2 separate regions of the Homo sapiens genome follow, and region 2 is linked to region 1. The links come from fine-mapping of genetic effects on gene expression. Tissue or cell type: whole blood. Region 1 holds a variant in brackets; the other region holds the start of a gene. All regions are shown on one strand. Distances are from middle to middle.

Region 1 (16,408 bases):
TTATCAAATCCATCTTTTTATTCTCAAAACTCTTAGAATGGTGTCTTGCACATAGTAAGTACTCAAGAAATGTTATTTGAATAAATGAATAAATAATAAATAGTGATGTAATTTACAGAATTTAGGCTGGGCATGGTGGCTCATGCCCATAATCCTATCACTTTGGGAGCCTGAGGTGGGTGGATCTCTTGAGTCCCAGAGTTCGAGACCAGCCTAGGCAACACAGCCAGACAAGGTGGTGTGTGCCTATGGTCCCAGCTAATCCGGAGGCTGAAGTGAGAGGATCACTTGAACCCAGGAGGCAGAGGTTGCAGTGAGCCAAGATCATGCCACTGCACTCCAGCCTGGGCAATACAGCGAGACTCTGTCTCAAAAATAAACAAATAAATAATCTTTTTAAATGAAGAAAAAAAAATTTACAGAATTTATATATCTGATTATATTATACCGAAAAATAAAAATGAAAATGAAAAACATGGTCTCTCATTCAAGAAACTTGAAGAAAAAAAAGTTTAAGAAAACCAAACACTGTTATTTGCCAATGATAAGTTTATGCTAAAATAATCCATTTCACTAGAGTTTCCAACTCCGAACACGGTCTCCTCACCTCCACCCGCATCTCCCAGTTTCTTTGCTTAGCTTAAAACTTTCCTTACCTCCAAGACAACACTGCCTCAAATTCAATGCCCTAAGTGATTTCGCTTCCTGCCTTTCAAATGGGATACAAATGGCTTAAGTACCTTGATGCTGCTTGTTCTAACAATATAATAAATAAATAAATAACAATGTAAGAAGATATACAATTTATTTCATTGGTAATGGTTTCCCTATGATTTAAATTTAACGAACACCTTGTCTCCACAAACCCACAGGAAAATCTGTAAAGTTTTACATTGCGTATAATAAAAATAAGTCTACTATATCCTTACCTATCATTTTTTCTACCTGAATAATATTAAAGTCCATTACACACTCCCCATGTCACAAAGAGGCTATTTAACATCATTTTAATGATGTCTGCTCCTTCTCCTCCCCCTCCTTCTTCTTGGTGTCAGCAAGAGAATCAAAAATTTAACAGCTTTCATGAAAACAATGAAGTATGTCAATATTTTAATAGTTGTAACATTTTATCCATATTCTTATTACAGAAAATGAAAGTATTCTCTCATTAATCAAAGCAAAACAAATTCTAACCTTTTAAGATGGTAGAATATTCTTATTTATGGTGGCAGTTTCATAAGACATACATTTGTCAAAACTCATTGAACTGTACACTTGAAAAGGTTCAATTTTATATACTGCAATAAACTCAAATTTATTTAAAAATAAAGTTTTCTAAAATCAAATATTTCTCCTTTCCAACAAATACAGTATACTAGAATAAGGATTCAATTCCAAGCAACTCAGAAGAGTTTAAAGATTTTACTGCAGGTTGAGCAAATGAGAAGTTACTCCAGTTTTACGCATGGAGAAACTGATCACTGAAATGAGTTGTGTAACTTCCCACACTGTTATTGTCAGGCCATCACCAGAGTGAGCAGACTCATGAATAGAGCACCAGTCCTGCCATCCTTTTGGCTCAGTAATGAGGCCTTCGGTAAGTTCTCGATCCCTTCAGCTGCAGAATGAGGAGGTTAGACTCATTTGCTAAGGGCCACTTCAACTTTAACATTCTGATTTTATATTCTAGAGATTTGAAGTATACTTTAAATGTCCTTTAAGGGGGAAACAATAAATTTTTTTTTTTTTTAGGAGACAGGGTCTCTTGCTGTTGCCCAGGCTGGAATGCAGTGGTGCTATCATAGCTCACTGCAGCCTCGATCTCCTGGGCTCAAGCAATCCTTCTACCTCACCCTCCCGAGCAGTAGTGACTACAGGTACACACCACCACATTCCCCTGAGTTTTTACATTTTTTGGCAGAGACGGTGGGCTCTCACTATGTTGTCTAGGTTGGTCTTCAACTCCTGAGCTCAAGCAATCTTCCCACCTCAGCCTCCCAAAGTGCCGGGATTACAGGATTGAGCCAGGGCACCCAGCCTCTAAAATTCTTTTATCAGCTAATTGAGAAATACTATTAGAACACCCTAGGACAATCCAATGCACTGAAGGACAGCAATCAAGGGGTATTCAAATTACAAAAGATTTCCAACTTTACAACAAGCTTTTACATTAAGAGACTCTCTAGGCCACTTAAACATTAGTTTACAGACATTAATTTTGAGAGGAAAGAAGACAGAAAAAAGTGTTAAGTGCTACAGTTAAGAATAAAATCATTCAAAGGAAATTAAACATCTCTGATAGTATGACGAAAATAAATGTACATCTGAGTCAATTCCCCTACAAATTTTCAGAACAATTGTACTGTAAAGAAGGCATGAATAGGCTAATGAAAACCACCTCTGTTTAAAAAAAAAAAAACAAAAAAAAAAACCTGGCATATATAAAGTGCTTTGGTAAGAGGCATAAACTAATTACAAAGGCTTTTTTGGTCTGTTTGTTGTTTTTACAAAAAAGGAAGCCAGGCATGGTGATGCCTGTCTGTGGTAACAGCTACTCAGGAGGCTGAGCGGGGGAGGATGGCTTGAGCCTAGGAATTCAAGATCAGCCTGGCCCATTTAAAAAACAACAACAACAAAAAAAAAGGAAGCAAAAACTTCATCTGTGTGGGGAAAAGGCAAAGGAAAAGCCCAAAATTTTAAACCCAAATTTCATAGTCAAAGACCATCAGAAAATTCATTCTTTTTTTTTTTTTTTGGAGACAAAGTCTCGCTCTGGCGCCCAGGCTGGAGTGCAATGGCACAATCTCGGCTCACTGCAACCTCCGCCTCCCAGGTTCAAGGGATTCTCCTGCCTCAGCCTCCTGAAGCTGGGATTACAGGTGCCTGCCACCACACCCAGCTAATTTTTTGTATTTTAGTAAAGATGGGGTTTCACCATGTTTCCCAAGCTGGTCTCAAACTCCTGACCTCAGGTGATCCACCCGCCTCGGCCTCCCAAGAGAAAATTCATTTTTATAGAAAAAAAAAGGCTGACTATATTACTACATTTCTATTCATAAACGTAGCATTTCCCAAAGACTCTTCTAAATAGTTTAAAGGAAAAAAAATTGGATATCCACGGTTAACATAAGCACAATTACTGCTTACTATATATCACCCTGGTATGAGTTACAATTGCATTCAGCTGCATGTCATAGAAACTTACCCATAGTAGTTTAAACAATCGGGGCTCTATTTTTCTACTAAAGCAACCAGTCCAAAGATAGAAACTCCAAGGCTGGTAGAGTAGTTGCAAGAAGCCATCAAGAACCCCTTCAATCTTTCTGATTTGCAACTCTTAGCGCTTGGCCTTCCTGGGACAAGATTGCTACATCCCCTTCATACAGGAAGGTGGGAAGGGAAATGGGAAAGTTGTGTGCCAGCCTCACAGATCCTGTTTATCAAGAAACCGAAGCTCTCCTGGAAGCCTCTGCCCTGCAACCACTTCTACTTATATTTCACTGGCTGCTACTGTGTCACCTTTGGCAACAGGGGAGTCTGGGGAGATGAGAATTTTTAACTATAATTTTTGCCACCCAGAGCAAAACCAGAATTCCATTAGATAAGAGAGACCATTTATCTTAGAAATTCAAAATACATATTTGATGTTAAGGGATCTGAGAACTGTGCAGTAAATAAACATGTTAAACTTTTTTTTTATACAGTATTTCTCAAAGTTATTTGAACATAAAATTCTTTATTTCCTTTGAACAGCCTGTTGAAACAGCATTTGGTGCAATTCATCCTGGGAAATGCTGCTTTGGGAACTAAAAGAAGAAAAAAAAATCTACTCCTATGAAATAGATTTTTTTTTTTTTTCTTTTTTTTCTTGAGACAGAGTCTCACTCTTTTCGCCCAGGCTGGAGTGCAGTGGTATGATCTTGGCTCACTGCAACCTCTGTCTCCTGGGTTCAAGCGATTCTCCTGCCTCAGCCTCCCAAGTAGCTGGGATTACAGGTGACCCCCACCACGCCCGGCTAATTTTTGTATTTTTAGTAGAGACGGGGTTTCACCATGTTGGTCAGGCTGGTCTGGAACTCCTGACCTTGTGATCCACCCACCTCAGCCTCGCAAAGTCCTGGGATTACAGGCATGAGCCACCGCACCCGGCCAAAATAATTGGTTTTCATATGTAGAAAGGGAAAGGAAATAGGTTGCGTTTAAGCAAGGGGTTCTGGAAATAAAATTGCTGAAGTGATAACAAAATTCTACAAGCAGGATCTGATATGTTTTTACTTTTTATGTAAAGTCACCATTCTAGTGAGAAAAATCCTTTATCTTTCCACTTTATGCTTTTACAGGTTGGGCCATACCCCCTTCTCCTCTTCACCATCCCTTCTCAACTCCTGAACTGTCATTTCCTTATGTAACTCCCCTCTGTTCTAACATTCCCCACTGGTCTTTAAATGTCCATTCCTGAGCTTCTCTAAGGTTTCACTCATTCTTTGCTTCAGCCTCTCATGCTTTAATAATTTTTCTTTCTCCTATTTTCATTTTTGTTTTCTTTTTATTCTCTCTTACATTCTTTAAGGTACACCAGCAACTCTTATTTTCTTAAAATACTACCAAAACAACCTAGGGCTTAGCATTTATTTACTGAGGCAGTCCCTTCTGCATATTTTGTATTCAATCTGTACAAAATGACTGTCCTTTGAAACCTCATGTTAGCTAAATGCTGTAACAAACAGACTCTAGTATTACTTCCAAGAATAAATGTGCATATTTATAGGGAAAAATCAAAACATAATTTTTCATTCTGATTCTAAAGCTTTCACAAGAAAGACATTTATCATATCCAGTTCCATTAAAATATTCACTTCTTTTAATCCACTTCAATGGTGAAAAGAAAAAGTAAATTACATTTTTCACATTTCCAAACACCATCCATTTCCATGACACACACAGGTATCTCCTTGCCAAGAAAAGTCAGTGGTTGTCTGTTTTGGAAGGGAAGTAAGAAAGTGGCATTTTTTATTTCCTGAAGAAAAAAAAATTAAATAGGTCAAATACATAAAACTTCCATGAAAAGAGCCACACTTCATTTCAGCCATTAAAGAAAAATGTGTTTAAATTCCCCAAAGGAACCCTATGCTCTACACTGGGAAAGGCTTATTCACTGCTGACTTTCAAGAACCAGACATGACTTATCACACCGTGTAACCAAGGCACTGAATGGAACTGAAACCCCAAGGAGTCTTCTTATCTTTCTGCTTTCTAGATACCAGGAAAAAAAAAGAAGCAGTTGAGATTATTCACTCTTCCAGTAAACAGGCCTCTAGAAAGTCAGAGGAATGGCTGGGTGCAGTGGCTTATGCCTGTAATCCCAACACTTTGGGAGGTTGAGGCAGGCAGATCACAAGGTCAAGAGATCAAGACCATCCTGGGCAACATGGTGAAACCCTGTCTCTACTAAAAAGTACAAAAATTAGCTGGGCATGGTGGCATGTGCCTGTAGTCCCAGCTACTCAGGAGGCTGAGGCAGAAGAATCACTTGAACCTGGGAGGCAGAGGTTGCAGTGATCCGAGATTGCGCCACTGCACCCAGCCTGGGCAAGAGACACTCAGGCTCAAAAAAAAAAAAAAAGAAAGAAAGTCAGAGGAACATGAAACACTCAAATGTCATAAAGAGCCTTTTCTTGCCAACTCTTGGTTATATGGATTTGCTATACTCTTTAGGGGCTGAAATTACTCATCCGAGAAGGCATAGCCAACTTGCCTCAAGGCAGAAATTTGGACAGCATCAATTTAGGTCCAGCAGAGCACTTCTCAAATTGCTTCCAAAGAGAAGACTGGCTCCTCCTAGCCAGCAGGGGAGCTAGAAGAACAATACAGCCACTCACCCCCATCATGCCTTTCAGTCCTGTCCAAAGTTCAAGCCCCTTCCTGCCCCCAGACCCCCGACCCTTTCCCACAATATCACACCCACAGTCCAAAACTTCCCTTGGATCCCCACCCTCCTACACCTTTGTACTGAACCTCTTGGGACCACCCTTCCCCCAACCTCTCTTCTTATCTTGGTTGAAACCTGGAACTCTTGATGGAAGCACATTGTAGCTTCTCCTTATTGCCCAAAGCTGTTTCCAATATAAGACTCCTCCACTCTTGGGTAAAATTTACCTCCATGTCTCTCAATCATTCTATCTCATTCGCTGAAGACCTTTTCCCCTGGTTCAGTCCTCCCTGAGTCACCAAGTCCAGCAGTCATTCCAAATGACCTTAGAATCCACCAAGCACACTGCCCAATTAGTTCCTTGACCTCATTCTGTAACCTCCTTCTTGGTGTTACTGTCTTCCTCCCAAAGACCTAGCGTGGCTTTCCCATCACTACTCAGAATGGCTCCAACTCTGACAGTACCTGCCAAACATCTCACTGCATTTCCTTTTGACCCTACGAACTCCTTCCCTGAGATCTCTCATGCCACCTCTCCCACCACACCAACTCTTCCATCTCTTCTGATGCTCCAATTTGCTAGCACCTCTATTTTCTTCTTCTCTGACAGGCCTCTTCTGTCTACATCTCCTTTCTCCTCCATCCTACATCAACTGCCCACTAACCAATGATCTCAACTCCCTCACACTCTCTTAAACACTCACTCAACCAAATCCCAACCCCAGATCCTTCTACCTATCACCTTCTCTGTTCCTCTCCTCAGGATACTCAACACCAAGGAGAAAACCACACAACCATTAACAGCAGATGGCATAACAGATTCAGGGGCTCCATTCTGGACACCCTCAGAGCTGTCCAGCAAACCTGTTGAGCTCTCTTTCCATTCCCCTCAGAAGTTTTTGTGGGGTTTTTTGTTTGTTTGTTTGTTTAGATAGAGCCCACTTTGTCGCCCAGGCTGGAGTGCAGTGGTGCGATCATGGCTCACTGCAGCCTTGACCTCCTGGACTCAAGTGATCCTCCCACCTCAGCCTACCACGTAGCTGGGACTACAGGCACACGCCAACTCACCCAGGTAAGTAGAAATGGGGTTTCACTATGCTGCCCAGGCTGGTCTCGAACTCCTAGGCTCAAGTGATCCTCTGTCTCAGCCTCCTAAAGTGCTGAGACTACAGGTGTGAGCCAACATGCC[T/C]GGCCAGAGGCTTTTTCAAACCTCCTCGACTTTGCCCAAGCCTCAGGGTCCACCATCAACCCTTCCTCTAACTCCACTCTCAGACGATAACCTCACCTCCTACTTTACAGAGAGTAAAGCAAGAACGCCTTCAACTTCCTGCCCACCCTCAAACTCACCTTCATCTGTATCCATCAATGTCTTCCTTCCCATTCAGTGGATAAATGTCCTTCCTCCTGCTTCAGATCAACATGCATCCCAGCTCAGAACTCTATCCACACTAGACTTCCCAGGCATTTGCTCTACTACATTAATGCTCTCTTATGCTCTCACACTTCCCTCTCTTTTCAGTTTAATGTGCCAAGACTCTCTCATCCTTTTTTTTTTTTTTTTTTGAGACAGAGTTTCACTCTGTCGCCCAGGCTGGAGTGCAGTGGCACAATCTTGGCTCACTGCAACCTCCACCTCCCAGGTTCAAACGATTCTCCTGCCTCAGCCTCCCGAGTAGCTGGGACTACGGGCGCATGCCACCACACCCAGCTAATTTTTGTATTTCAAGTAGAGACAGGGTTTCACTATATTGGCCAGGTTGGTCTCAAACTCCTGACCTTGTGACCTACCCGCCCTAGCTTCCCAAAGTGCTGGGATTACAGGCATGAGTCACCACACCTGGCCAACTCTTTCATCTTAAAAAAAAAAAACAAAAAAATTCCCCTCAGACCTAACGCCTGCTCCAACTATGACCTCTTCTTCACAGTCAAGCTTCTAGATTTATCTCTCCCAACTTCTCTCCCAGTGAATCTGGCTTCCTTCCCCACCCCTCCAGTGAAACTCCCCTAGCTACAGTCAGCAGCACACCAGCATGGCCATAGTGACCAAACTCCACAAACACATTCAGACCACACTTGACCTGGCTTCTCTGGAACATCTTCCCTGAGCCCTCAATTCATGCACACACTCCTGGGTTTCTTTCTATCTTGCTAGCCAATCTTTTCCCTCTGTCTGCCTTTTACTTCACTGTTTTTCAAACTGCCAGTCTTGAACCTAAGTCTCAAAATCCTGGGCTTAAGCGATCCTCCTGCCTCAGCCTCCTGTAGCTGGGACTACAGGTGCATGCTACCACACCTGGCTAATAGAGGGACGAGGTCTCACCATGTTGTTCAGGCTGGTATCAAACTCCTGGCCTCAAGCAATCCTCCTACCTCGGCCTCCCAAAGCACTGGGACTATAGGCATAAGCCACTATACCCAGCCCACTCCATATATTCTTTAATAGACAGCCAGACCTAGCAATCCCATGATTAAGTATTTAACCAAGAGAAATAGAAATATATGTCCACAAAAAAGACTTACACAAGAAATGTTCACAACAACTTTATTCATCAAAGCCAAAAACTAGAAACAACCCAAATGTCCATCAACAGAATGTATAAGCAAACTGGGTGAACCCATACAATGGAACACTACTCAGCAATGAAAAGGAGCTACGACTGATGCACTCAACAATGTGGCTGAGCTCCAAAGTATTATGTTGACTTAAGAGAGCCAGACATGGCAGAACACCTACTACGTAACATCATTTTCATGAAATCTGAGAAAGACATAACTGGTGATAAAAGTCAGAAAGCAGCTGTAGAGAGGTGGGGTGGGTGACTGACTGGAAATGGGCACTGGGGAATTTTCTGGGCTGGTGGAGATGTCCTATATCTGGTTTGATGTGTTGATAATATGAATGTATAAAATTGCCACCTCATTTCCCTTTTTTAAGTATTTTCTGAGAGTGCCACAATCTCATGGCAAAGGCCTTTGGGATTTCATACCTGTATGATTCTCTGTACTCCTTCTTCGTCACCTTCCTTCACAGGCTACCCTGCTCTCATACTGAAGTTCTTATCTTTTCCCAAATAGATGATGTTCTCCTTCACCCCTGGCCTCTCTGCTTGAACAACCCCACAGCTTTGGCATGGCCACCTCCTACTGTCTTTTGAGACTCAGCGTAGATGTTACTACTGCCAGGAAGTCTTCCCAATCCCCAAACTAGATTTGTATTTTTAGTAGAGACGGGGTTTCACCATATTGGCCAGGTTGGTCTCAAACTCCTGACCTCGTGATCCACCCACCTTGGCTTCCCAAAGTGCTGGGATTACAGGCATGAGCCACCACACCTGGCCAACTCTCTCATCTTAAAAAAGGCTTGTGCTTAACCATTTCCCTCCCCAGAATGTGAATTCCCTGAGCACAGGGTCTCCAAGTTATTTGCTGAGGGTGTGCCAGGTGTTGAGAATGGTAAATGTACTCAACGTTTGTCCGACAGGTGAATGAAACATTCAAAAATTGCTTTCTCCTCAAGCTAAACACAGAAGGATGAACAGTTGCAATATCAATATTTAAGGAAATAACTTTGAAAGAATAAAAGGTCAGTATTTTATATTTAATACTTCAGTAACCATATATACACAGGAGACTGTATTATATCAAGATCCGGTGCAAACAAAAAAGAAAAGCAAGACAAACAGACTCTGCTAACTCTTACTCTAAAAGCCAAGATAAAAGGAAAATGAAAGTCTTATTGGGTAAATAAATGAATCTCAGGGAGGGCATCCTGAGCAAAGGGAAGACTCTTTGATGGATACGAAAGTGGTCACTTTTTCAGTTGATTTAAGCAGAGGCAAGAGTTAGCCCAACAAATCTCTCTGAGCTGTGTAAATTCCAACAGAAGCAGCTAGGAGCCAAACAATGATTTGGAAACGTACCAAGAGCTCAAAAGCATCAAGTCTAGACACCTCAAACTCCCCTGAGAGGGATCTGGCTGCCTGCCTACTGCCAAGATCCCTGCTGACCCCAATTTCTTGTATTCCATAATCATTTTTAGATGGATTGCTAAGAGGTAGCTTTAAGAGAAGCAGCCTCAGCCACCTGCCATCTTTCACATCTCAGAGGGGCCCATCTTTCCTTTGAAAGGGAAAGAAAATGGACTAGTGTTAAATTGCAAGTGAAATAAATTCCTTAAATATCAGGAAGCAGAGAATATAAGTAAAGATCTTCCTCTAGCACTTCTAGCTGCCAAATCAATCTTCAAAGCAAAAAAGTGCTAGCTGTATTTCTTCAAGTGCTATCTGATTTGCCAGAATACTTTTCACCATTCCAGAACTATTATCGGCTGGCTGCTGGTTACCAGCAGGGCTTCTCTTTCTTCCTTCTTCTCCCAGTCGAGAATGCAATGTATGGCAGGGCACGGTGGCTCACGCCTGTAATCCCAGCACTTTGGGAAGCCGAGGCGGGTGGATCACGAGGTCAGGAGATTGAGACCATCCTGGCTAACACGGTGAAACCCCGTCTCTACTAAAAATACAAAAAAATTAGCTGGGCGTGACGGCAGGCACCTGTAGTCCCAACTACTCGGGAGGCTGAGGTAGAACAATGGCGTGAACCTGGGAGGCGGAGCTTGCAGTGAGCCGAGATGGCGCCACAAGAATGCAATGTATGGCTCAATATAAAAAGCGGGCTGAGCGCAGTGGCTCACGTCTGTAATCCCGGCACTTTGGGAGGCCAAGGCGGGCGGATCAGGAGTTTGAGACCAGCCTGGTCAACATGGTGAAACCCTGTCTCTACTAAAAATACAAAAATTAGCTGGGTGGCGGGCACCTGTAATCCCAGCTACAAGAGGCTGAGAGAGGAGAATCCTTTGAACCCAGGAGTTGGAAGTTGCAGTGAGCCAAGATCGCATCATTGCACTCCAGCCTGGGCGACAGGGTGAGACTCCATCTCAAAAAAAAAAAAAAAAAAAAAGTGACACATTTCCTCTTATACATTTTTTTTAAATCCTCCCAGATGCCTCATTACCTGCCTGGCTCCATTGTCAGCATCTGAGCCTGGCATCTGAAACCTTCAAAACAACAAACCCATTTAAAGCACAGGCATGTCTGTAGGGGTAAAAGTGAAAAGCAAAAATTGAGATAAATGAACCAAAAAGTGATAGCCACTGTCATTGAAAGTAAACACCATATGTAAAATAGCAAACACACAATTAGCTAACACAGTTTTGACAAAAAAAATTATGTCAAATTTTTTAAATCATAACATACACATAACAAAATTTGCCATTTAGTCATGTTTAGGTGTACAATTCAGTGACATTAGTTGTATTCACAATTGTTATGCAACCATCACTACTATCTATTTCCAAACCTTTTTCATCACCCCAGAGAGAAATTCTGTAACTATCAATCAATAACTCCCCATTCCAATCTTTCCTCAGCCCTTGGTATCTTCTAGTCTACTTTCTTCCTCTATGAATCTGGCTAGTATTGATATTTCATACAATGGGAAGCATACAATATTTGTCCTTTTGTAACTGGCTTATTTGACTTCTTAGCATAATGTTTTCAAGGTTCCTCCATGTTGCCACATGTATCAGAGCTACATTCCTTTTCATGACTAAATAATATTCCATTGTGCATATAAACCACATTTTGTTTGTCCATTCATCTACTGATGCACACTTGGGTTGTTTCCATTTTTGAATCTTGTGAATAATGCTACAATGAACCTTGCCATACAAGTATCTATTTGAGTCACTGCTTTCAATTATTTTGGGTATATACCTAGGAGTAGAATTGCTAGGTCATATAATACACAGTATTTTTTTTAATCAAGTACATTCAATAGTTTTAAAAAAAACTTGGACTTTTTTCCTGATTAAAAAGCAACACATGTTCATTGTAGGAAATCTGGAAAATAATTACACCACCCAGAGAAAGTCGCTGTTAATATTTCAGAATATTCCCTTAAAATCTTACTGTCTAGTTATACACATACACAGAGACAGACATACATGGATATTTTAACTAAAACTGGGTTATTTCCACTTATCATTGTATCAAGAGCATTAACTCCACTGTCATTAAATGTTCTTCAGAGGCCGGGCACAGTGGCTCATGCCTGTAATCCCAGCACTTTGGGAGGCCAAGACAGGTGGATCACGAGGTCAGGAGTTCGAGACCAGCCTGGCCAATAGGGTGAAACCCCGTCTCTACTAAAAATACAAAAAAACTAGCCAGGCATGGTGGCACGCACCTGTAGTCCCAGCTACTCAGGAGGCTGAAGCAGCAGAATCACTTGAACCCAGGAAGCGGAGGTTCGAGTGAGCTGAGACTGCACCACAGCACTCCATCCTGGGCAACAGAGGAAGACTCCGTCTCAAAAAAAAAAAAAAAAAAAAAAAAAAAAGTTCTTTAGAAACAACACTTAATATATGAATAATATTTCATCAGATAGATAAAGCATAACTTTATTAACTATTCCCCAATTTAGGCTGTTGCATATTTTCTGTGGTCATAAATAACACAGCAATGAACATTTTCATGAATTATTTCTTCTGCACTTCTTTGATTACTATTTTAGCATATCTTACAACAAGTAGAATCACTGCATCAAACAATATAACCATTGCTAAGGCTGTTGATAAAGATTACCTATTTGTCTTCCATAAAAGTCATACCAATCTATATTTCTACCAGCAAAAATAAGCAGCTTTTTTAAATGTAAAAATAAATTAATTATATAATCATAAAATATAAAAGAACAGCTTCCAAACTGGTAAACCATGTGTTAGCAATTATCTTTTCTATTAAATGATGTGGCCAGGCTAGATGAACTAAGGTTCAAGACATCTAGGAAAATGTCAAGTTTTCAAATGGCAATCCATATTTTAAACTAACAGGCCTGCTAAAGCATGGATATATTTACATATGGACATGTGGAGAGAAAGATTTATGTAAAACCACCACCTTCCTGATAGCTGTCCCCATCCCTAAATTTTCCCTTTGTCCTTTTTATACAAGCCTGAATAGACTAAGGACAACTCTAATGCCTATAATACATAATGCCTATAATACAGTGCTGTGGCACTGACTCATCTCCTTGGAGACACCTTCTTCCCAGCACATCCATCAGCCAATCTGGTTGCTTCACATGAAAAGAGTGGGTACAGGAGTTAAGGTTGCAGTGAGCTATGATTGCACCACTACATTCCAAACTGGGCAACAGAGCAAGACCCCCTCTCTTTAAAAAAAAAAAAAAAAAAAAAAAAAAAAAAAAAAAAAGGCCAGGCACAGTGGCTTATGCCTGTAATCCCAACATTTTGGGAGGCTGAGGCGGGCAGATCCTGAGGTCAAGAGATTGAGACCATCCTGGCCAACATAGTGAAACCCCGTCTCTACTAAAAATACAAAAATTAGCTGGGCGTGGTGGCACACATGTGTAGTCCCAGCTACTCGGGAGGCCACGGCAGGAGAATCACTTGAACCTGGGAGGCAGAGGTTGCAGTGAACCAAGATTGCACCACTACACTCGAGCCTGGCGACAGAGCAAGACTCCGTCTCAAAAAAAAAAAAAAAAAAAAACAGGAAGGAACAAGCCATGCTAACAAAAGGGGTGCCAGGGTCATTTTGGGAGGAGAAAATTACCTAAAATTCCCTCCCTCATCAGCAAACAAGGCGTCAAATTCCTGCCACTAGGACTCTGGTCCAAAGTTACAGTCCCCAAAGTCAACACCAGTGACATGGGGCTCCCAAAGTCACCACAAATATGCTCTAGGGACACTATCTGGACCGGAAGCCTCAAAACAAAAGTCAGTCAGTGACATACGATCCAGCCCTCAAGCCCACTTGCTTTGACCAGAATCAGGCTTTGGTTTGTTCATTGTTTTTATTTTTGGCTTTAAAAATTGTTTTGAATCAGTTGACAATCTTTAAAAATTAAGACAGCTTCTCACACAAATCTACATCTCTAGTTTCTCTTGCAATATCCAAGGATCTCAACATGGGGTCCATTCACTACACGGCAACCATAGGCCATAGCTGAGAAGCAGCTGCCCTGTCAGATGTGATGCACTCTCAGGTCTCCATGCTCCCACCTTCTCCAGACGCTCAGGATGCCAAAGCAGAGGTCAGCAGCCCTTGACCAGAGGGGTTTATACTGCTTTTCTGACACCCTTGTTTCTGTGACACAGCCTGAGACCTGGAGAATATTTGAGCCTGTGACCCCTGGTCTGGTACGAATAACGTATCATGCATACAAATAGGGTTACTGGCCAAACATCTGCAGATCCTATTATGACTAAAAAAATCCAAACTACTTAAGGCATTACTCAATTCAGAGAACCTCTTGCCATTAGGGATTGCCTGAATCAACAGACACTACTAAGTTTTGGTTTATGCTTTTTTTTTTCTGAGATGGGTTTCACTCTTGTTGCCCAGGCTGGAGTGCAATGGCATGATCTCGGCTTACTGCAACCTCCGCCTCCCAGGTTCAAGTGATTCTCCTGCCTCAGCCTCCTGAGTAGCTGGGATTACAGGCACGTGCCACCATGCCCGGCTAATTTTTGTATTTTTAGTAGAGACAGGGTTTCACCACGTTGGCCAGCTGGTCTCGAACCCCTGATCTCAGGTGATCCACCCCCCTCAGCCTCCCCAAGTGCTAAAATTATAGGCGTGAGCCACTGCACCCAGCCACTACTAAGTTTTTTAATGAAAAGGGGGAACTCAAGTTTTTTACTTTTTCAATAATAACAAAAAAATTAGAAATCAATTAAGAATTTAAGAAAAATTAAGAATTTTATTAAGTTGTTTTTTATCAAAAAAAAAAAAAACCCTTGTATTAAGAAAAATTAAGAATTTTTTAAGTCGTTTCCTTCCTGACTACTATGTACAAAATATTAGGCTTCTATTGAAGCAATGACATAATGATGAGTAAGACCCTGCCTGGGCCCTTGCAGGCAGATGGCGGACAGCGTGTGAACAGAGCAATTGCGGGAGGCACAGCGGTAAAGGTAATGGCATCCACCTGCGAAAAGCACAAGAGCCCTCAGGAGGTGACAGGAAGCCTTTATCAAAGGACAAGGCATCTGCCCGGCTAAGGAGAGGGAACAAGAAGCAAGGCTATGACACAAGTTCAAGGTGGAGCTGGGCTTTGGTCCCATTCTAGCAGAGCTGAGACTTCCTTTGGAGGTCACAGGAAGTCACCCAAGAGTTTTTAGTGTTGCATGCTTTAGAAAAGTTACCATGGAGATGGTGTTGAGGTGCCTAGAAGAAGAGGAGCTTGGGCTCAGGGAGGCCTTAAGAAGATGATCGTGGGAGTCCAGACCAGATGCAAGGAGCATCGAAACAAAGACAAGGGCAGGAGGAGCAGACCAGAGAGGCAGCTACGGCTCAGTGGCTGTTAGATACTGACAAATGAGACGAGCAGTTATCAGAAGAGACAAAGGCAGGAGGGAGCAGACCAGAAAGGCAGCTATGCCTCAGTGGCTGGTTAGATACTAGAGAACGAGACACAGCAGTAATCAGAATGATTCACTAAATTTCAGGCTCTGACAACTCAGTGGACATCAGAAACACTGGGCCAACACAAAAAATAAAGGATGGGGAGCAGTTACTGGAAGGTAAGGGTGAGTAGGGGAGACATAGAGACCAGGATCCCATCTGCAGAAGTGTAGCAGCTCTGGATCTAGGCACGAACAAGGTCAACCCTCGGCCCAGGCTGTCCCTAAGCACACAGCACATCACCAAAGCTGGAGGTGCCAATTCCTCCACCCAACTCAGCTGAACAGCAGTTCCCACAGCATCACTAAGGCTGAAAAATTGGAATGCTATCCTCCTCACAAAGGCGGAAGCATGCTTTGTCCTCTGCCTGCCTATAGCGAGTGTCCAAATTACCAATGGCAGATCTTACACCAACATCAGAAGTCCCCTACCAGCTCCTCTTGGCCTCTGCATATGCCACCTTCCCCTACTCCACAATTCCTGCGACAGCACTGAGAAGGTACTCAGGCAGGGCATGGGGTTGGGAGGTTTGGTGGAAGTCTAAAGATGACCAACACATGAAACAAGCCCTCAAAAGAACCTAACAGATCACGGAAGACTCCTGTGGAAACACTCCACACGCTGAGCACAGTATGACAGGCTGGAGGAGAAAAATAGATAAAGAATCTGTGTTAGGTCATATTCCCTGGAGGCAGAGCCTGATGTGGCGACTCCTATGCAAATGAGTGCTTGAGGAAGTGCTCTCAGGATCCGGAGAAACTGGAAGAAGGTGAGGGAAACTGCATAGGAGTTGAGATAAGCCCAGCCTCCGTCTGATCCCACAAAAAGCTCTGAAGTAAACTGTACAAAGTTTGTGCTGCCAGGAAGCAGGGGATTGGGTTTGATACTCCCAATCGTTGACTTCACTAAGTGATGTCAGTCACTGGGTACAAGGTCACACCAGAGTGGAGGATGCAGGTTACCTCCCAGTCACCTCCAGGCTAGAGGGTTC
Region 2 (13,042 bases), 38 kb after region 1:
ATTTACAAAGGAGCACTCGGTAGTTGCCATGAAGACTGTATAGCCCACAAAGTCTAACCTACTTACTATCTGGCCCTTTACAGAAAAGTCTGCTCCCCTCTGTTATGGACTGTCAGCTCCTTAAGGTAGGGCCTGTGCTTCTTCCTCCTGTCTCCTGCTTCTCACATGGCATTTGACATATACATAAAAAGCGCTCAAAAATATTTGGGGTATAAAAATTCCACCAGGCATAATTTCAAGCAAAGAGGAGTATGTTTGGGGGATGGTGCTGCCACCTCACTCAGGGCTTAGAAAGTTTCCCAACTCTGGGCCGGGCACAGTGGCTCACGCCTGTAATCCCAGCACTTCGGGAGGCCAAGGCGGGCGGATCACCTGAGGTCAGGAGATCAAGACCAGCCTGGCCAACATGATGAAACCCCGTCTCTACTAAAAATACAAAAATTAGCTGGGTGTGGTGGCGGACGCCTGTAATTCCAGCTACTCAGGAAGCTGTGGCAGAAGAATCGCTTGAACCCAGGAGGTGGAAGTTGCAGTGAGTGGAGATCACGCCACTGCACTCCAGCCTGGGTGACACAGCGAGACTCTGTCTCAAAAAGAAAAAAGAAAGTTTCCCGACTCTGCCCAGACTCTACTTAACAACCAAAAAGCCCAGATCAGCTGCAGCGGTGGTTTTCATTGCATTGTTAGCAGCCCACACAGCTCTGACGGAGTGAGCACTGCAGAGACGGCTGAGTGAGGATCATTTGCATCAGTCACCTAATCTACTCGATTGCCCTGAACACAAGGCCAGAACAGAGCCCCCAGTTCTACCCACACATAAGGAGAACCTGAACCCCACCACTTTCCAAAAAACGTCCAATCCCACCCAACCACTCATGGCAGCCTGCACAGGCCACAAGGCTGGCCGTGCAGATAAATACTTAAAACATCCTGGAAAAGAGTGACTAAAAACTGATATTGGTTGCCTTTCAACTCTTTGTATTTTCATCAATATATTTATAGAAAGGGACTAAACCACACAAAAACATAAATAGTCCCCTAAAAACTACAACACAAAAAGAAAAGATTATTCATGGTGCAAATGCCTTCTCTGACCTTCAAGGAACAGACTTGCAACAAAAGACCATATATAATGTTTCCTAATTTTATCATTATTATTGATATCATTGCATGAGGCACAAATAAAGCATTTTCTGGGCTGTGACCATATTCAGTCCAGTCTAGGTTATCAAAATTCAAATTCTGGATGGTTTTCTTTTTAATTCTGTCTTGGCCTGGCCCCAAATCGCATCAGTGGGAGCCAGGCAGAACTGCAAAAAGCCTCCCACGTTTCCGGCACAATCATTTCAACCCTTCTTTCAGGACACAAAGGCCCATCCATGTGGCTTCTTTCTTCCCAGAGTCCTCAGACAACTGTCCACAAGCAGCCTCTGAGGAAGCACACCAAACGCAGACAGCCACTGGGCAAATCAAATGGCTTAAGTCAACTGGGTCCTCATGTAATGAGAGGCAGGGCTAAGACACCTGCAGATTTGCCAAGGCTGGGGCTTAAGTGACCACCAATGCAACCCCTAGGTTCCAGAAAGCTAGTCACTAGTCTATCTAAAATACAAGACTCTCACTCACAAACTTCTGCTGAGGACCTACTGTGCACCAAGCACAGGACTGGTGCCTGTGGTGGCCTCACAACACTGCGAGGTTCATATCATTTTACAGATGGAGAGACCAAGGCCCAAAGAGTTAAATAACTTGCCCAAGGTCATTTGGCCAAAAGGAGACAAAGCTGGAAAGGTAAGAAGGACTACACAGCTTCTCCCTAGACTGCCCCTCTCAGAAGCAATGCCATGCACATGAGGAAGTGGCAGTCCTGTTTTCCAAAAGCTCTCCAGGTAGCAACATGAAGATGGCCAGGATGGGGAGCCATCTATTCACTTATGCACTGCTGGTGGCAGTGTGAAATGGTTCAGCCACTTTGGAAAACAGGTTAGCACTTTCTACATAGGATGGATACACGAGCAATTCTAATGCTAGGTATTTACCCAAAAGAAATAAAAGCATGTGACCACACAAAGACTTACACACAAATAGCAGCTTTATCTGTAATAGTCAAAAACTGGAAACAGCCCAAATGTTGTCCTACAGGTAATGGATAAACAAACTGTGGTATATCCACAGGACATAATGCCTGCATAATACACCGTGTCTCTATATATGCAGTGCCCAGGCACCTGTATACAGGCATCCAGCAAAGGGCGCATACCCAGAATATATAAACATCTCGTAAAAGTCAAGAAGAAAAAGGCAGACACCCAACAGATAAATGGGCAGAGGACTTAAAGAGCAGCTTGCAAAACATGACATCCCAATGGCCGATTAATACGTGAAAACATGTTCAGCCTCAGTAGTCATCAGGGAAAGGCAAATTAAAATTGGATGACATGAAAACAAGAGACAATATCAAGTGTGGATGAGAATGTGGTACACACAGAACTCTCTCTACACACTTTTGGTGGAAGTATTAATGCATACAACCACTGTGGAAAACTCTCTGCTAGTATCTAATAAGCTGGACATGAGCAAACACTCCTAGGTGTATATCCACAGAAATGCATACCTATGTTCTCCAAACACAGGTACTAGAATGTTCACAGCATTGTGACCCTATGAATAGGGTCAAAAACTGAAAAGAACTCAAATACCAACCTACAATAGACAAATGTGTTCAGTATATTCATACCACGGAATACCAAATAGCAATGAAAATAAACAGACCACAACTATACACAGAAACATGCGTAAGCCTCCCAAACATAACGTTAAGAGAAAGAAGCCAGACACACAGATCACATATTACACAATACACAGTTCAAAAGGAGACCAAACAACTCAGTGGTGTTGAGGTCAGAATAGCAGTTACCGTATGCGGGGAGATACTATGAGGAAAGGGGCTGTGGGGGACAGGGAATGTTTTGGCAGCTGTTTCTTAATCTGGGTGTGTTCCATTTAAGAAAATTCATTGAACTGTGTATGTATATGATTTGTGTACTTTTCTGAATGTAGATTAGACTTGAAATTTACTCGCAAAACTCAGTTAGACAGATGACGTGAAAAGGCATGAGCAGCTTTTCTTTGCCTCAACAACTTTTTCAAACTGCAAAACAGACACACATTCACCTTGGGAAAACAGACAAGAGAAGATAATGGAAATCACCCATAATCCCACCAACCAAAGAAAACCATTTTGGTGTGAATCTCCTCAAATATACACACACTTTCAAAGGAGGGGGAGGGCAGATTCTGCAGGGAGTAGTTAATACGAAGCAGGTGCTCAATACGTATTTTGAACCATAAGTGAATAAACAATATTATACAGTGTTTTGTAACCTAGGCAACCATCCCTTTTATTATTACCATCAATGAAACTAGTTAGTGTCCCTAAAGGATTTTAGCACACGGCCTCAAAACACTCTGGCAGACTACACAGGAAGATATGCAGATATTTCCTATGTACACGCGGACAAGAATACAAAACCCAGAGCAGTGATTTTCAACCCTGGTATCACCAATTCCCTCTAAAATTATTGGGATACTCAAAAAAACACTTATTTTCCTTCAAGGTGGCTTTAAAAATTCATATATACCCCAGTGATGCTTTAATTTGGGATAAGTGGCACCAAAATGCTGGGGGCTAAACACTAAACACTCAACGTATGTTGTTAATCCAGATAGAGTCAAAAGCAAGCCCTGGATATTTGGTCACTAATGGCCCCCAATGGGTGAGTTGTGGTGGGCCCTAAATCAGGGTGGGCACGTCACAGGAAGAGTCATACTCCCTGATCCAGAACCAAAGACTGTTTGCAGAGAGCAGGACAGATGATAAACACAGCAACACAAGGACAAGGTTACAAGCAGGTACAGAACCAAGACTTCTGATACTAATAATAGCTAACACTGGCTCAAATAGAACTAAGCCCTGGTTTCCCTCTCTGACATTTATTCATTTTTTTATCCATTTGACAATACTTACTCTACCCTTACTGTATACCAGACCCTGTTCTCAACACTGGAGATAACAGCAGCAACAAAGACAAACAAAATTATCTGTCCTCAGGGAGCTTATACTCTAGTGTGGAGAGACCAAAAAAAGTAAAATATAAAGCATGTCAGATAATAGCAAGGTATATGGAGAGAAATAAAATAGGAAAGGAAGATAGGATTTAGAGGCTGGGAAGGGGAGCTGTAAATGTTTGGTGCCAAGTTTTAAAAGGATCCCTTCAAAATGAAGTAATCATCTTCTCCCCAAAGAACTCTATGATAATTATGTTAATGTGGTCCCAGGGTAACCACAGCACTCAGAATAAAAACCAAGAATTTTATGGACCAGAAAGTGCCTACTTAAAAACAGACAAATTGAAGATCTAATAATAGCTACCACTTCTTGGTATCTTGCTATGTACTATTCTCAGTCCCTTATACACCAATAATCTCATTTAATCTTCACATTGAACTAATGAAAAGAGTAACATCATTTCCCACATTTAGCAGAAGAGAAAAACAGAAGCCCAGTGCAATTAAAGAGCTAGCCCACGGTCACATGTGTGCTAAGTGTTGGTGTCAAGATTTGAATCCAAAGTTCACACTACTCTTCCTCCCCAAATAAATGTCTACTTTAGAGACAGAGTCTTGCTCTGTTGCTCAGGCTGGAGTCCAGTGGTGTGATCATAGCTCACTGCAGCCTTGACCTCTTGTGCTCAAGCAATCCTCCCAACTCAGACCCCTGAGCAGCAGTGACTACAGGCCTAAGCCACCACCACTGGCTAATTTTTATATTTTTATTTTGTGGAGACAGGGTTTCACCATGGTTCCCACGCTGGTCTGGAACTCCTGGGCTCAAGCAATCCTCCCACCTCGGCCTCCCAAAGTGCTGGGATTACAGATGTGAGCCAATGCACCCAGCCTTGTCTTCCTTAATCCTAGTCAAGATTTGTTGTCATTCAGCATTTTATTGAGTTCTTACAACCCTGCCAATCACCAAAAAAAGAATTGAAGGTTGGTTCCACGTTCGCAGTGTCTTCTTTTCTCCAAATAAGAAAAAGTGAATGGCAATGGCAACCCTTAGATATTTAAATAACAATTTCTAGATCCAATTAGAAATTATTTCCTCAAATACTTGATATTATGAGCAACTCCAAAATAGCTCCATTTTAGTTTGAGAGTAAAGTTTGACTTAGGGCAAATGAAAGTTCATACAGCCAGTTTCTTACTAGGGGTAAGCACCTCAAACTGAACACAGTCCAAACAGAACTCTTGGCCAAGCCTCACCCTCCCCACAAACACATTCCCCTCCTGTGATCCTCATCTCCACAAAGGACGTCTCAACCTCCCAGCCTCTCAGGCCCACAAATCAAGAGTTATTCTTGCCCCTCTCTCACCTCCACATCAAATTCATCAGCGATTTCCATCCTCTCCACACCAGATCTATCCCTTCTCTCCAGTTCTCTGCCAACCCCCAGCCCAGGCCGCCAGCATCTCTTTCCTGGACCACTCAGATGGGCTCCTAACTGGTCTCCCTGCTTCATGCTTTGGCCCCTTGAAAATCTCATCTCTACACAGCAGCCAAAGTGACCTAATAAGTGTCACTTCCCTTCCTAAAATCCTTCTGGGCCACCAGAACCCAGTCTGAAATTCTAATCCTGGCCAACTAGGTGCTAGGTCATCTGCCTCCTCAAGTTCTCGAGGTTTACTCTCCCCATGGTTCACTCTGTATGAGTGATAAGATGGGTAATAAGAGAGTACTCTAAGTGACAATGTGAATAGCAGTAAAAACACTAGACTCACACTTAAAATTATTCCTGCAAATACTTGCTTTATCTCATCACCTTTTTTTAACCTTCATAGCACTTGCCACTTTCTGGATTTTTTATTGTTGTTCATTTGTATCAATGTATTTACTCTTCAGTGCCATCCTGTAAATCTATACAATGTTATTATGCCTGAAATATTTTCTTTAAATATCTATAATAATGAATGACAGAAAGCCCTTAATGCATGTTTTCCCCATACTCTAAGTATTTCACATTCTCATCCAGTGAGTGTGAGCCAAATGTCCTGAACTTACTCTCCTGAGTTGAGCACGTTCCCATCATACAGTGTTCTTCTCTGTGACCTCTCTTTATGTCGTTTATTTTGTGTTCTGGCCCAAACTGCCTTCCTAAGGGCATGAGGATGAGGCTACAAATAAAGGCAGAATATGATGCCAAGTGTTAAAATATAAGTTTTACAGCAACTTGAGAACATGCAAGAGGACACCAGGGTACAAACTGTTAGTGGGTGATTGGTATTAAGTCCTGGGAGCTGGTGAAGAGCACTACAATTGCACAGCAGCCTGAGAGGATGAACCAAGAACTTGGTTGCTATAGATTTGTCATTAACTGTGGGCACTTTGAAAAGAACTGCCAAAGGAAGATGCTATGAGGCCCAGAAAGAAAGGCAGCAGGAATCAGTTGGCTAACTATTTGTACTAAGGCATTTCCCTGGACCAGGGAAGGGTGGTAGCTCCAGCTCCTAGAACAGTTCCTGCCACATAGTAGGTGCTCAATAAAACAGTCTGTGAATAGATAATTGAACAAATGAATACATTTTCAAAGTTTCTATTTTTATCCTCTTCTCTCTTCCTTTTCACTAATCCATCTGTCCCTTCATAAGACCCCTAGAGAAGGGAGAATTTTGCAAGCACAGAGTCATCGTAATCTTCTCCAAACCACTAATGGACCCTCAGCCATCGTTCAAAGAACAAAATGTGGGAAATAGAAACCCTGACACTGAGATGTTAACAATTACAGACGATGCTTATGGAGTCAGTGGTAGACTTGGAAAACGGTGAGTCTACTGTGGTAAGAACAAACATAGGCAGACAGCTATAAATTGCAGTAAACAAACTCAATAAAGATGAGACATCACTTAAGCATGCTCAGGAGTGTACTTAATACCACATTTCACCTAGGTAGCCTGCTATCACGTAGGTATTATTATTGGCATTAAATGTGCTTCTTCTCAACCTTGCCTCCAATCTAAACACCACAATGGGTTTAAAATAATGCAAAAGAATGTTACTCCAATGCCTCCTAAATCCACTCCAAATAACAAATCCTTTAATACAGACTGCAAGGTAAAATATTGTTCCCCAGCAAGTAAATAATAAAATAACTGTAATCCAGGGTAAAAGCTTTGCTGGCCTCATAATCTACTTGAAGAAAAAGCATTAAGTGATTGCTCAACACACCAACAAAATGCTGTTACTGACAAGGCACCTTGAGTTGCCATTAACGAGACATAATTACCAAGAACTGAAATCAGATTTAGTCATCTCATATCTCCCTCTACCTACGCATTCTACCTATTCTTTTTCAGCTTTCACGAATTGAAAGGGGAAGGGAGAGGCAACAGCAGACACTAGGACTATTTTGAGAAATAAAAGGATTCAAAAGTTAAGTGCAACTTCCACTAACATAGTAACACATCTCCCAGGAAGCCCAGGTGACTCAGAAAGTCCTATATGTAGAATATCAATATAGAAACAACTCAGTTTCCATACTTCAAAAGACCTCTTCCTCCAAGTTGAGTTTCGTGCAGATAACTGGCTGATATGTTTCAGATGGAAGCAAATCTGAACATTTCCAAACAATCTACAGGAAGAGATAACCAAGTAATATAGTCCATGCAGCAGAGATAAGCAACTTTCCAGGGTATAATTCAAATCTCACAAACATCCTTAAGAGCCCCAAGTCTATTAAGATCTGGAGACTGTTAAATAGGCAGGACAAAATATCCCACCAACCACCTCTCCAAAAAGCATTGTTCTCCTCGCACTGACACTTGTATTTCCCTCTGGCTTGTTTTTGGAAAACAAATTGAAAAAAAAAACAAAAACAAAAAGTAAACAGTAGTGCCACATCTGTTCTTGTCTTCCTCACGATGGCAGATCACACACACTACCACCATTCCAAGTGCCTCCTGAGCCCCTTTCCTCGACAGCCCCATCCTTCCACGTGTCCATAACTAGGCTTCTCAACTGCAAGGGGGAAGTGAGCAGGAAACTTCAAATGGGACCTGAAGAGGAAATAATGATAATAATGTAAATTGCTACTAATATTAAAAGGGGGAGGGTATTTTTTCTTTCTTTTTATTATTTTATTTTATTTTATTTTATTTATTTATTTTTTTTGAGTCGGAGTCTCGCACTGTCGCCCCGGCTAGATTGCAATGGCGCGATCTCGGCTCACTGCAACCTCTGCCTCCGGGGTTCAAGCGATTCTCCTGCCTCAGCCTCCGGAGTAGCTGGAATTACAGGCGCGCCGCCACGCCCGGCTAATTTTTTTTGTTTTTAGTAGAGACGGGTTTTCACCATGTTGGCGAGGCTGGTCTCGAACTCCTGACTTCGTGATCTGCCCGCCTCGGCCTCCCAAAGTACTGGGATTACAGAGGTGAGCCACCGCGCCCGGCCTCTTTCTGTTTTTAAACAAAACTTCCATTACAAACATCGGAGGCTGCAAGGCACAAACTGGGGCAGGAGTATGCACAGTCGCCCAGGATGACAAGTGGCAGGTTTTTTGTTGATGGTGGTGGTGTTCTGAAACACCAAACTTTAAAATGAACTGTTACTTAGAGAATTACTGTAATCGGAGCGGACGTGCTAACGCTTTTTCACCCCGGCACAAAGCACGCCCCTTCTGCCTCCCTTTCCCAGTCATTCTTCAGGCGTGCGGGAAACCGCGGACAAGCAGAGCACGGGGACCAGCACGATCCTCCTGCCACCACTCCAGTCTCTGCAGGTGCCAGCATAGAAGAAAACCAGGGCTCTCGCCTCCCTCCCCGCCACTGCGGTGCGGTCCCGGGGTGGAGCCACGGCGCGCCCCATCCTGAGAACCCCACCTGGAGGGGAGCAGGGACGCAGGAAGGGCACCGTTGGGAGGCATCACTGGGTTCGCTGAAGGCACAATCGCGCGCGCACACACATACACAGACACACATACACACACGCACGCACACACACACACACACACACAGCGGCGCGCGGTGGCGCGGGCGGCTGGCGCGTTACCTGTTCTGCCAGCCCTGGAGGAGGTTGGTGTATTTGCTGAGCACGCCCTCGAGCGCCGGCTCCCTCCTGCGGCCGCCTCCCCCGGACGGGCTAGCGGCCACAGAGCCCGGGCTGCTGCGGCTTCCCCCGCCGCCGAGCCCGGCCGCCGCCGACCGGCTGGAGACCCCCCGGCCCGCCAGAGAGCAGGAGGGCGAGGAGCCCGCCGAGGTAGCACGGCTGCTGCTGCGGCTGCTGCTGTTGCTACCCCCGCCGCCGTCTGTGCCCTGGACTGCCCTCTCCATGGTCCGTGGGCGCCCGGGACGCGGGTGCCCGCCGCGGTGGCGGCCCCGGCACGGCGGCTGCTGCTGCTGCTACAGCTCCGGACGCCCGGGCCGCGCGTGCCTGCTCCAAATCCCCGGGAAATGCCTGACTCATACAGGAGGAAGAGGAGGAGGAGGCGAAGGAGAGCTGGGAAGGAAGCCAACGGGGCTGGATGCAGCTGCGGCCGCCCCTCCTCCCGCCGCGGCCAGGGCCCGGCCCCTCCCTCCGCACTAGTTTCCCGGGCAAGTTCGGAGCGGGTGGCCGGCTAGGCGAGCCCTCTTCGGGTTCCTCCTTCTCTTCCTTCGTGTCCCTGCGGCCTCTCAGGCCCTCGGGACACTCTAGGAGGCCGATCTGCAGGGTGGGCACGCCCTAAATCCACGCCAAGTCACCCACGCATTCCTTCTGCCACCCTCTCTTGGATCCGAAGGGGCGAAAGGGAATCTCTGCACGTCACTCCCCACCCCTTATCCACCTCGGGACCTGGAGGGAGGGGCAGCCCCACCCACCCGGTCCACCCGGATATGGACCCGCCCGGCCTGACAGGCTCACACGCACACTCCCTCTCTCGGTCTTCCGCACACGATGCTGCGCCAGACGCTCCTACACAGTAACCTGGAAATTATCACCGGCGGAGCAAAGTCACAGCTCAGGGAGGCCCTCCGCGTTGTCTGGCGGAGGAGGGGAGTGGCAGGTGATCCTCACAGGTAAGCTCGCCGGGCATTTTCATGCAGCAGGATTATGATAAATGCTTAACAGACACACGGCTGGGCTGGGGTGAGGCGCGCGAACTCTCAGGTTTGTGCGAGTGCTTCCTTAAATTGAGTGTCCTAGGTCACTCACTGGCCTAACCCTAATCCCCTGCCCTGAATGGCACGCATAAACCTGGCAAGTCAAAACCTATCCATTGCTACCACACTGCACGTGCACCTAGGAGCAGAGGCTCTGAAACCGGGAAAACTGCTCCAGAGGCAAGGGAAATTAACAGATATTTACAAACATTGAAGGATTCTCTGTGTTGGCTGTAACTTCTGCGCCCCTCTTCCTACCTAAAGATACTCTTTCTATCCCACTAATATTTTTTGTGAATATAGATATCCATTGTAATCTGAAGTATCAAAAATTACCTAGAAAAAAGCTTTGAGGAACTCAGACTCTCTCTCTCACACACACACAGACAAAACAAAAGGTGATAGATGATAGGTGATCTCCGTCCAAAGGATCTACAAACCCATCAAGCAGATAAATACTTCAAGAGTTAAAAAAAATTACTAAATGGAAAAGTCAGCTCTCAAAGGGACAGTTCCCCGAGCCCAACCCCTTTCTAGCTTCACATCCTTCCAGGAAGATTTCATGGGTGGTTTAGCTCTAGAGATGCACGGAGAAGCTTCTGGAGTTGAAGAGAAGTGGTTGTGCCCCTGAGTAAATTACAATTCCAGGTGCCTACATAGTGTTAAAAAAAAAAAAATCTGAAAAGAGCTTGCCTGGACCAAATTTGAAGCCATTCAGAGCTGAATTCTAACCTATGACCTTGATCAAATTACCTCTTTTAGCCTTAGTTTTCTCACTGCAAAATGGGACAAATGATACCGGCTGTAATAAACTATGCAAGAATGTTCATTTGTTCAAAATATTTACTGCCGCTTCCTATGGAAAGAGTATCCTTCCTCCACATGGACCTTAGGCTTGGCCATGGAATTGCTTTGAGCAATGGAATGTGAACAGAAGTAATGAATGCCCCTTCCAAACATAAGCTTTAAGAGCAGTCATATGGTTCCACCATCTTTCTCTTTTCCTTATCCCAGGAGAGCAGCATGTCCCGGATAAGGACTCTCCTTAAGCTTGTGTCCTGGAGTGAGAAGGTGTGGAATACAGCAGATCCTAAGCCAGTTAGTGTTGGCCATGTAACATGCACAAAATGTTTGTTTGAAGCCATTGAGATTTTAGCATTATTTTTTACCACAGCATAGCTTTGCCTAAGCTAACTTACTGATCATATATGAGTGTTCATTGAGTCCTGCATTGACATACAGACTGAAGGTGGGAAGGTAGGTGCATACTGGACTATAAATGTCAGCATTATGTACCAAAACAACATGCCTTTTATTGGAGACTGCCACCTTAAGCTCCTGCTAAAAGAGGAGAAGTGTCATTTTATTTCATATTACCTAACCTATGCCACCATTACTCCACCTTATGCAGCCAACCTAAGACTGAATGAGCTAGCACAACAAATTCTCACCTTGGACTAAAAAATTAGACCCTTGAGATAGACCAGTTCAAGTGGGGAAGGAACTAAGCTAAAAGGAATAGTCAAGGCCAGGATGGGGCAGGAGCAAGCCAGCCGTATGGGATCAAAAATGTCCAAGAGGTGAGTGGAGCAGATGTGCTGAAAGTAGAGGCTATATCATGAAAGAGTGATGAAGCACATGCTGTTCCTCCTGCTGGTGACACTGTTCCCTGCTCTCTTCACCCGGTTTGTGTTTCTCACCCATGGAGTTATGGATTACAAGTCACTTCTTCCAGAAAGCTTTCCTTGACCTACCGTAGTATAGCAAATAGGGAAAAGGTACCTGCAGAATTATGTTTGGAGAGGAAAAAGTCTTTATGTTTGAAAAACAATTTGGAAAATACATAATAAGTTGGCAAAAAGTATTTGAAATACATACTGTAATGCCCAACAGTTTCATCTTGCTTGTTACCCGGAAAAGCCAATGCAGGTTTTTGCAATAGAGGAAGAGTTTAACAATTGTAGGGCCAGCCAAGCTGGAGCACAGGAGTGTATTATTACTCAAATCAATCTCCCTGAAAATTCAGAGCCTAAGGGGTTTTTTTTGTTTTTGTTTTTGTTTTTGTTTTGAGACTGGAGTCTCGCTCTGTCACCCAGGCTGGAGTGTAGTGGCACGACCTCAGCTCACTGCAAGCCCTGCCTCCCGGGTTCACGTCATTCTCCTGCCTCACAGCTTCCCCAGTAGCTGGGACTACAGGCACCTGCCACCATGCCCAGCTAATTTTTTTGTATTTTTAGTAGAGATGGGATTTCACTGTGTTCACCAGGATGGTCTCGATCTCGTGACCTCGTGATCCGCCCACCTCGGCCTCCCAAAGTGCTGGGATTACAGGCGTGAGCCACCGTACCGGGCCCACCTAAGGTTTTTTTTTTTTTAAGGATAGTTTGGTGGGCAGAGGGCTAAGGATGGGGAAGCTGATAGATTGGGTGAGGGATGAAATTATAGAGAGTCGAAGTTTGTCTTCTTGCACTGAGTCAGTTCCTGAGTAAGGGCCACAGGACCTGATGAGCCAGTTTACCAGACTGGGTGGTGGCAACTGGTCCGTCAGAATGCAGGGTATGAAAAACACCTCAAACACAAATCTTAAGTTTTACAATAGTGGTGTTATCTATAGGAGTGATGGGGAGGTTAGAAATCTTGTGACCTCTGGAAAAATGGCAGATTATCATTTAACTATGCCTTTATCTTAGCAAAGTTCAGACCTCTCTTAAGCCTGTGGCCTTTCATTAGTTTTACAAAGGTAGTTTGGTGTTCAAACAAGGAGGGAATAGTTTTGGAAAGGGATATTACAATCCTTGCTTTAGGGTTAGACTATGAACTAAATTCCTCCCAAAGTTAGCTGTGGCCTGTGCCC

What was found. PIP is the estimated chance that this variant, and not a neighbour inherited with it, causes the effect.
Region 2: it holds the start of OSBPL10, and the variant in region 1 is fine-mapped to the expression of OSBPL10 in whole blood (TOPMed, PIP above 0.99).

Annotation. Positions count from the first base shown.
Region 1 is chr3:31,931,671-31,948,078 of GRCh38, forward strand. The region is part of intron 1 of OSBPL10 (oxysterol binding protein like 10); the gene reads right to left. Among named protein-coding and RNA genes, the nearest start is that of OSBPL10, 41 kb to the right of the region's middle. RefSeq lists enhancers at 14,656-15,258, 15,259-15,860. The variant T/C (reference allele first, on the strand shown) is at 7,119.
Region 2 is chr3:31,971,799-31,984,840 of GRCh38, forward strand. It overlaps OSBPL10 (oxysterol binding protein like 10), which reads right to left and starts at 9,464. Exons shown (of 12, transcript NM_017784.5): 1 at 9,101-9,464. The coding sequence starts at 9,381. It overlaps ZNF860 (zinc finger protein 860), which reads left to right and starts at 9,952. Exons shown (of 2, transcript NM_001137674.3): 1 at 9,952-10,104. RefSeq lists an enhancer at 7,550-7,599 and a silencer at 9,154-9,223.